2 separate regions of the Homo sapiens genome follow, and region 2 is reported to be linked to region 1. The links are microRNA targets in miRTarBase. Many come from high-throughput screens and were not tested one by one. Region 1 holds a microRNA gene; the other region holds the end of a gene's coding sequence. Distances are from middle to middle.

Region 1 (4,387 bases):
CTGGAGTGCAATGGCGCCATCTCAGCTCACTGTAACCTCCGCCTCCTGGGTTCAAGCTCTCCTGCCTCAGGCTCCCGAGTAGCTGGGGCTACACGTGCACACCACCACGCCCGGCTAATTTTTGTATTTTAGTAGAGATGAGGTTTCACCATGTTGGCCAGGCTGGTCTCGATCTGACCTCGTGATCCGCCCACTTCGGCCTCCCAAAGTGCTAGAATTACAGGCGTGAGCCACCGTGCCTGGCCAAAGGTCCTCATTCTCTGACAGGGTTAATCACACAAAACCACTGTCCCCTTTATCTGGAAGCCATCCTTGGGCCTTGCCAGTGACAAGTAGCTCGAGGCCAACTTCAGCTACAGGGTGAGGCCCGAGGTGCAGCCAGGCGGGTGCGGGAAACAGGATGTGACGAACTCCAATGAAAGTCTATTTATTTGCTCGTAATGAGACAGAACGCTACAATCTGTTCAACACTGGGCTGGACACTGCAGTGATCAGGGGCAGGTGTGGGGCAGGGTGGGGCCTCTGAGCCCGAGGACAAATGTCCATGGCAGAGCCTTCCAGAAGACTCGTCCCTTACCCTGTGGGGCAGAAATAGAAATCACATGATCGCCACTGATTCGCAGTGGAGAGGGCGCTGAGCTGGGCCCGGCAGGCAGGCAGCCTCAGCAGAGATTCAGGCAGTCAGCATGGTGCGGCCCTCCCGCCAGCACTGTCAGGTCAGCAGAGGTTCAAGCAGTCAGCATGGCGCGGCCCTCCTGCCAGCACCGTCAAGGAGGGGGATGCTGCTCCTGCCTGGTGCCTGCCTTCATTCTGAGGGCCCCTGGCCCCAGCTGAGTTCAAGAGGGGACCTGGGGCTGCCCCAGCACCCTGAGAGCCCGTGGCTGGGCAGCTCTGGAGGCGGAAGGACACAGGTCCCTGAGGCCCCGTCTGCCCAGGGTTGTTCCTCCCTCTCCCTCCTCCTCAGGCTGGGGCAGGGTGGCGCCGCTAGGACCCTCTGCCATGGCTTTGTGACACTGCAGCTATGCTGGGCGGGACTCCGCCCCCCACCCCACCCCTGCATCGGAGGGCAGGGCAGGCAGCAAGCAGCATTTGGAATGCAGGGTGGAGAGGATGCTAGAAGTATGTGATGCACCTGCGGCACTGACAGCATCTCTGCCCTCAGAGGCTGAGGGCCCACAAGGCACAGGACTGCCCCCTGCCCACAAGGCCAGGCCCTACAAGACAGATGGCAGCCTTGAGGCCTAATGTCGAGCTCAGCTTCCTCCTGTCTGCATGTGGCCAGGCCTTGGAGCAGCAGCTTGTGGCAGCATGAGGGAGGGCGGGGAGGACCCAAGGAGTCTCGGCGATGCCTGTCCTCAGCAGGTCAGCTGAATGGAGCATGCCAAGGTCCGACGGGCAGTGTGACCTCCCAGGGCACTGGTAACTGCACGGAAGGTGCTGAGGAGTAGGAACCGTCCTGATGCGTGACCGCCTGTGCCAGGGGGCTGAGCCTCAGAGCTCTGTGCTTGCGAGGAAAGCCTCCCCCAGGCTGCCCACCCCTCATCAGCCCCTCATGGAGGAGTGGGGGCCACTCCTCACCCCCCAGGCTTCTTTGGGCTGGTTCTGGAAGGGGACGGGCCATTCCCTTTATTGCGCCCCCTTGTTCCGAGGCTCCTGTGCCTTTACGGTCAAGTGTGTCCATAATACTTGCGTTCCTCCCTTGCAGGAGAAAGTCCCCTCCAGCTTTCCAGGAAGGAGCTGCAAGAACAGGCAGCGGAGTGGGAGAGGCCCAGTGAGGGCAGGCCCCTCCCAGTGAATGCAGCCACACTGGGTCAGCCCTGGGGACGGTGCATGCGCAGGGGGGCAGGGCCAGGGCAGCAGGCAGAGGTTTCCAGAAGCAGGGAGGGGAGCTGAAGAGCCTGTGGGAAAGAGAAGAGCAGGGCAGGGTGAAGGCCCGGCGGAGACACTCTGCCCACCCCACACCCTGCCTATGGGCCACACAGCTGGGCCTGGGTGCTCCAGGAGCATGAGCCCTTCTCCAGGCCATGGTGTCTGCCTGCAGCCACTAGGCGCCTCTCGGTCCCCACACAAATAAAGGCACTGATGGATCCAAAGTCGGGTGCACAGCCCAGTTGCCATGGAGCCTGCTGTGTTAGCTTGGCACAAGTCACCAAACCTCTGGGCTGTGCTGGTGCATAAGGTGGTGGACTCTGCAGTCCCCACGGCCCCTTCCGGCTCTGCCGTTCTCTGTGCCCATCCAGGGCCTTCCACTTTTGTGGCTGGAGGCACCAAGCTCCCATACCTTTGTGTCTGCTGTGGCGTACCTGCCACGGATGGGCATGCTCTGCGCATGCCCACGATGTTCTGTTCCCGAGCCCGTGTAGCACCGGGCCTGCAGCTGGGGCAGGCCGACGAGCCCAGTTAGATGGCTGGCAGCTCCTTGCAGAAAACAGAAGGGGTCAGATGGACAGGAAGGCGGGCTCTGCGGGCGGCCGAAGGGTGGGGCCTGGTGGCGGCTGCCCAGCCGACATCACATGGTCCGGCTGTACTCGATGCCACTCTTGGAAGAGATGCCCGACCATGGCAGGAAGCTGCAGAGCAGGCTGTGGGCCTGGCGGTAGACTCTGTGCGGAATGGAGCAGGGGCTCAGGCTGGCTAGTGCAGAGCCCAGGTGCTGGATGTAGTCCGTGGGGCTCTGTTAAGGAAGATTCCGACTTGCCCTGACCACGCTCGCCAGGGCACAGTCATCAGGGGCCCGCGCAGTGGCCTGTGGGACTGTGTGCAGATGGCAAGCCAGGCTTCGGAGGCTGAGAGCCCGCTAAGCCTCTGCAGAGCTGGAAAGGCTCATGAGACGAAGTGGCCTCTGCTGTGCAAAACAACAGAGGGTGGGGTCTGGGGACAGAAGGGCCTTCTGAGTGAGGCAGCAGGCATGTGGACACCACACCCAGGGATGCACGGGGGGTGGGGAAGGGGCCTGGCAGAAGGGCAGGTGCTTCTGGTTCTCCCTAGATTCTCAACCTTTGTGGCAGCAAGAGGGACAGAGCCCTGTCCATATGACAAGGAGGGGGTCAACAGTGCTGACCCCCTGGATGCCTGTCTTCACATAAGCTAGACGGCCTGTGGAGTGTGGGGTCACCCCTCTCTTTCCTGCTTATTATTCTATGTAATGAATAAATCCTAGACTCATGAATTTGAAAACACACACACACACGCACAGCATTTTTTTGGGCCACATTCTGACTATTATAAAGTTTCCTGGCTTCCCTCTGACCTGTCAGGGGCCAGTGAAAGTTAAGGAGGAAGAAGCAGGGAAGGGCATACCTTTGGGTCATGCATCCTATAAGGAAGGTTTGAACCCAAGTATTCAAAAAAAGTAAAAATCTCTTCTCTCCGCACTTGTTTCCCCTCTGCTAGCACAGGCTCTGGGAGGACAGGGGATCCTGTCCGTTTTGTGCACTGCTGATCCCCAGTGCAAGTGGAGCAGGAGGCTCTCCAGCTGGGTGCAGGGCTCATGCCTATAATCCCAGTAATTTGGGAGGCTGCGGCAGGCGGATCATTTGAGCTTAGGAGTTCGAGACCAGCCTGGGCAACATGGTAATATGTGCAACTCGATTTACCCAAATGTGTGTCAGGTTTACCCACAACACGATCAGGTAAGGGAGAGAAGCATCCATAAGCTTGGCCACCTGAACATCATCTGAGGGGGACCACAGCTCCAACTTGCTCACTGGCTCTGCCACCTTATGGACAGGAAGCCACAGTCCCTCTCCCCCAGAAGTTAAGGATATAAAATCGTCCAGGGAGGGTGGCCGCCGTTGATGTAGAGGACATAGGTGAAGCCATCTTTGAGGACCCCTCGAATGGAGTAGTAATAGGGGAGATAGTGGTGCTGCTTGAAGTCTCTGTTTTCATAGAAGTTTATTGCTGTGTTGTTGGTGGTGAGGACATGCAGGTAAATGGCTTTGCAGTGGTCCTGGGCGGTGGTTGATATGTGATCCTTTAAACTTTCAAGTAAGAGGGAACCTTGGGGAGAAGAGGTAAAGGTAATGCAGGCAGAGCAGTTAGGAAGGAAGGATGACTGGGCTAGGATGGGGGCTTTGCATGAGTCTCTCGGAGATGTCTCGGCCCACCGTATCAGAGACCAGCCTTTCTTCACCACCACTGTCAAAGTCCCTAAAATCTCATGGCCAGATGGAGCCTGGTAGCTACAGACTGCTGGGAGGGACTGCAGAGGTGGCCTGGTAGCGCCCTCCCATGGGCTGGGCCCGCATGGAGACTCCCTTTCAGACAACAAACAGGGTAAATGTGAGCCCAGGAAAACATGGACTAGATGGGCCTGGGTTTAAAATTAATTAAGACTCTGCCGCTCACTGGCCGTGTGGCCGAGTGGGGTGGGACATCGGAGAAA
Region 2 (4,387 bases), 71 Mb from region 1:
TCCTGTGATGAGAAAGATAAAATGTGTTCCAAATGATAACGAAATTAAGGTAATTGATAACGAAATCTTTATCAAATGGGGAAGTGACATTTTTCTTTTAAAAACTTGCCTCACCCAACAAAGCTAGGAATTTTCTTAGAATGTAAGAACTTGCCTGATAACATGGTACCCTGATGCCTTTTCCTGCCCTTTTTAACTGTGGGTTATTACAGAGATATCAAAGACACGACGGTGGGCACTCTGTCCCAGCGGATCACAAACCAGGTCCATGGTTTGAAGGGACTGAACTCCAAGCTTCTGGATATCAGGAGCTACCTGGAAAAAGTCGCCACAGGCAAGCTGCCCATCAACCACCAGATCATCTACCAGCTGCAGGACGTCTTCAACCTGCTGCCAGATGTCAGCCTGCAGGAGTTCGTCAAGGCCTTTTACCTGAAGACCAATGACCAGATGGTGGTAGTGTACTTGGCCTCGCTGATCCGTTCCGTGGTCGCCCTGCACAACCTCATCAACAACAAGATTGCCAACCGGGATGCAGAGAAGAAAGAAGGGCAGGAGAAAGAAGAGAGCAAAAAGGATAGGAAAGAGGACAAGGAGAAAGATAAAGATAAGGAAAAGAGTGATGTAAAGAAAGAGGAGAAAAAGGAGAAAAAGTAAAACATGTATTAAATAGCTTTTTTAATTTGTAAATTAAAATCTTACAAACTAAATCAGTGTGCTGCTAGAGGGTTCTTTTTCACTTGACATGCTTATTAGAAAGCTGACCCAACAAGAGCTCTCTGCCTCCGGTCACTCTTGCTGTGGTGCTACGTGGAAGTGAATGGAGACTGATCTCAAATCTGAACTGCAGCTTTCGCTGCTGTGAGTTGGGGATATGATAGTCAGCTCAGGCTTCAGATTGTATGAGAAAAATGAAGAGAAGTCAACAAATATTTTGGTACTCTTCATTCATTTATCTCTAAAACCAGGAGTTGAATTTTCCTCATCTTGAAAGACTCTTGGGGTCTGTTTCTGGTATTTTACAAAATTGCTAAGTGGAATGCATGAATTGCATTATGTTCTCTGGTAACACGTAGAGTTCAGACCCTTCTGAACTCTGTTGATAATACCACACCATGTTCTGGACCCATAGCTCTGGCATCCTCAGGGGTTGTGATCCAGCTCCATATATTGTTTACCTTCAAAGATACAATTAAATGGCTTGATTTTTAAGCTGTGTTCTAGTCGTTTTTGACTTCGGGAGTAGTGATCTGTAGTTTCCAGAAGCAGCCAAGACAGTCTTCGATTGGAGCTGCCTTAAGTTCTCTTGCACTTGGTATCATTTATGAAAGAGCATCTCATTCCCCTAAATGGAAACAGGCAGTCTGCTGTAGTGAGGAGAGTTCTCTGAGCCCAGAAGACCCGGGTTCCAGTTTGTACCTCAGATCCCTCATTTATGAGGTGGTAGGTTGCAGTCCGTCATCTCTGAAGTCCCCAGAACAGTGTTTCAAAAGGGACACATTTACCACACTGCAGCAAGTTGTAAGTACCTCAGACCACAGGCCAAACAGGCATGTTACTAAGAATGGAACAATGTTTCCCCCAAGATAAGTGCACAGGACTCCTAGAGGAACAAATTAAATAAGGCACTAAATCATTTGACATACAGTAGTCACGGATATTAAATTTCCTCTCTTGAACAGATAGAACCTCTCAAATGCACTACGTGGATTATTCATCTTCAAAGATATAAGAATACAATAAAATAGCACAAAAACTCAGTTGCATCTCAGAAACCACTTCATGAGGTTATAATGCCTTAAAGTAATCAGAAGCATCGATTTTTATTCCATAGACCTGCCAAAGAGCTAGTTAGTGGGAATTTGGGAATAGGTAGAGCTTGAGTATCCCTTATCTGAAATGCTTGGAACCAGAAGTATTAAAAGATTTAGGAAATTTTTTTTTTTAATATTTGCATTATGCTTAACGGCTGAGCATGCCTAATAGGAAATGTTCCAATGAGCATTTCCTTTCAATACCATGTAAGTGCTCAAAAAGTTTCAGATTTTGGAGCATTTCAAATTTTTGGATTAGGGGCACTCAACCTGTAGTAAAATGTAAAATGGCTCTTATTCAGCATAAATAGAGGCATGCCCCCATCAGGGGTCATTTCAGAGTTCATCAAGATTCTGAGATAAAAAAGCATGGTACAGTGAAAACAACAAAATTGACTTTCCTGTTTCAGAAGCCAAAAGTCAGACGGTTTGTATCTAATTGAATAAAAGAAACTTGAAGTACGTAAGTTAAAACTTGAGGTGTATCCCAAACCATGGGAGCGTTGAAGAAGCTTTTGAGATCTGGGTGCCATGTTTGGAACACACTGATGTGACAGGTTGCCTGGACCACAAACCCTGGCTAGGAAATGGGCAAGAGCAAGACCCAGGCATCGGGGGAGAGCCAGGTGCCATGGTGCTGAGGCTCTAAGCAAGGGAACGCAACGTCATCCTAAGGAACGGGTCCTGTATGTAAGGCTCAGGGGCCAGTGCACACCTGAATTGACACCGCACAGGATTCAGGTCTGCCTTTAAGAACATAATGCAGGGTTGGGGGCAGTGGCTGGTGCTTGTAGTCCCAACACTGGGAGGCTGAGGCAGGAGGATCACTTGAGGCCAGGAGTAAGAGACCAGCCTGAACAACATAGTAAGAGCCATCTACAAAAAATTCTAAAATTGCCTGGGTGTGGTGGGATGTGCCTTAGTCCTAGCTACTGAAGAGGCTGAGGTAGGACACTGGAGCCCAGGAGCTCAAGGTTACAGTGAGCTGTGATCACATGCCACTGCACTCCAGCCTAGGCAACAGAGCAAAATCCTGTCTCTTTAAAAAACAAAAAGTATCATTTGGATTTAAAAGACTTTCCCAGGGTCCAGTGAACTAGCACAATGCCACAGACTTGTAAGTTGGTCATAGTTTGATGAACTGAAATGTTTATTGAGCATCTAAGAACATAGGAATCCCCAGGCCTTATTATTTTTAATAGTTTGGCCCACATACGGACAAAACTGACTTCTACCTTCCTAACAGAAATCTTCCATTTCTACTTATGAAGAAAATAGCTTATAGCCTGTGGAGTCACTTAGGCATATTTTCTAAGGCCAAATTGCTGCCATCATGTAGAAGAGGGGGAGCCCAGTAGTGCTACCGATGAAGTCTTGCTCATACAAATAGCGGCTGACTTGACTGCAAAACCCAGGGCCCACCCCTAAAATAAAGCCTTACATTTGTGTATTCTGGCATTCTGGAGATGAGACTTCTAAACGGCTTTTGCTGGCTTTGGAAACACTAAAAAAGTATTCTGGAAAAAGTGTGATCCTCAGCCTGGATCTCATCTTCCTAGCTGCAACATTAGCTTCCCTTCGATTTCACCACAGCTTCAGAATGACTGCCTAATGGATTTCAGGCTGCTCCTGTGACACCTTACAGAGGATGCTGTTCACTCCTGAATTACGGTTTTCTGTTTGAAAACACGAAATATGCGAGTTATAGACTGGGGATAAATGTGGAGAGGGTCCTGAAGTCAAGGAGAAGATTTTACCAAAACTAGAGCACTTCAATGGAGAAGTAGGCGGAGTGTGGTGGCTCATGCCTGTAATCCTAGCACTTTGGGAGGTCGAGGCTGGTGGATTACTTGAGGTCAGGAGTTCAAGACCAGCCTGGCCAACATGGTAAAACCCCATCTCTACTAAAAATACAAAAATTAGCTGGGCGTGGTGGTGTGCACCTGTAATCCCAGCTACCTGGGAGGTTGAGGCAGGAGAATCGCTTGAACTGGGGATGTGGAAGTTGCAGTGAGCCGAGATTGTGCCACTGCACTCCAGCCTGGGCAACAGAGCGAGACTCTGTCTCAAAAAAAAAAAAAAAAAAAATTGCCAGAAGCAGATGAAAGACAACCACAGGTTTAAATGAAAACAAGCTGAAACAATGCAAACTTTTTATACTAGATATTCGACTTAAAAATATCTCAATGAAGGGTTAGTTTTCTCAAAAAAAAATGAAAAAGAAAACAGGAAATAGCCCTCAACTTATGGAAAAGAATGAAATCTCCCATTCACTGGGTAGTTATGCAAAGGCTTTTTCTTCTACCATTTTCCATTAAGCAGAATAAAACTTGAGAATGAGTTAGGATTGTTTGTTAGACTATAACATGCTAACAAAACCACTTTCATCTGCCCTGTCTGGGAAAATGCGGTGGATACAGGACATGTGGGAAGGCAGAGAAACATTTGATTTATATGGCCCACAAGAGAAAATGTTTACAACTTCCCTAAGCAAATGTACTGCAAATTATTACACATAATACCTGTGTACATTCCTATGCCATTCAACTCTTGGCATTACCGATTTTTGCCTG

What was found. Region 1 holds the annotated microRNA hsa-miR-6126 (GUGAAGGCCCGGCGGAGA, at 1,926-1,943, shown strand). A microRNA usually pairs through its seed, bases 2 to 8, with sites in the 3' UTR of a target mRNA and lowers its output. Matches are read on the target gene's strand: a 7mer-m8 pairs with bases 2 to 8, a 7mer-A1 pairs with bases 2 to 7 and ends in A, and an 8mer does both.
Region 2: the mRNA of PSMD7 is a reported target of hsa-miR-6126. Seed matches in the 3' UTR shown: 7mer-A1 at 1,178-1,184.

The regions. Positions count from the first base shown.
Region 1 is chr16:3,482,978-3,487,364 of GRCh38, reverse strand. It overlaps MIR6126 (microRNA 6126), which reads left to right and starts at 1,896; the gene lies at 1,896-1,984. It overlaps NAA60 (N-alpha-acetyltransferase 60, NatF catalytic subunit), which reads right to left. Exons shown (of 8, transcript NM_001083601.3): 6 at 3,768-4,002; 7 at 2,304-2,666; 8 at 412-1,898. The coding sequence ends at 2,510.
Region 2 is chr16:74,305,077-74,309,463 of GRCh38, forward strand. It overlaps PSMD7 (proteasome 26S subunit, non-ATPase 7), which reads left to right. Exons shown (of 7, transcript NM_002811.5): 7 at 213-1,212. The coding sequence ends at 657. Among named protein-coding and RNA genes, the nearest start is that of PCHILR, 6.1 kb to the right of the region's middle.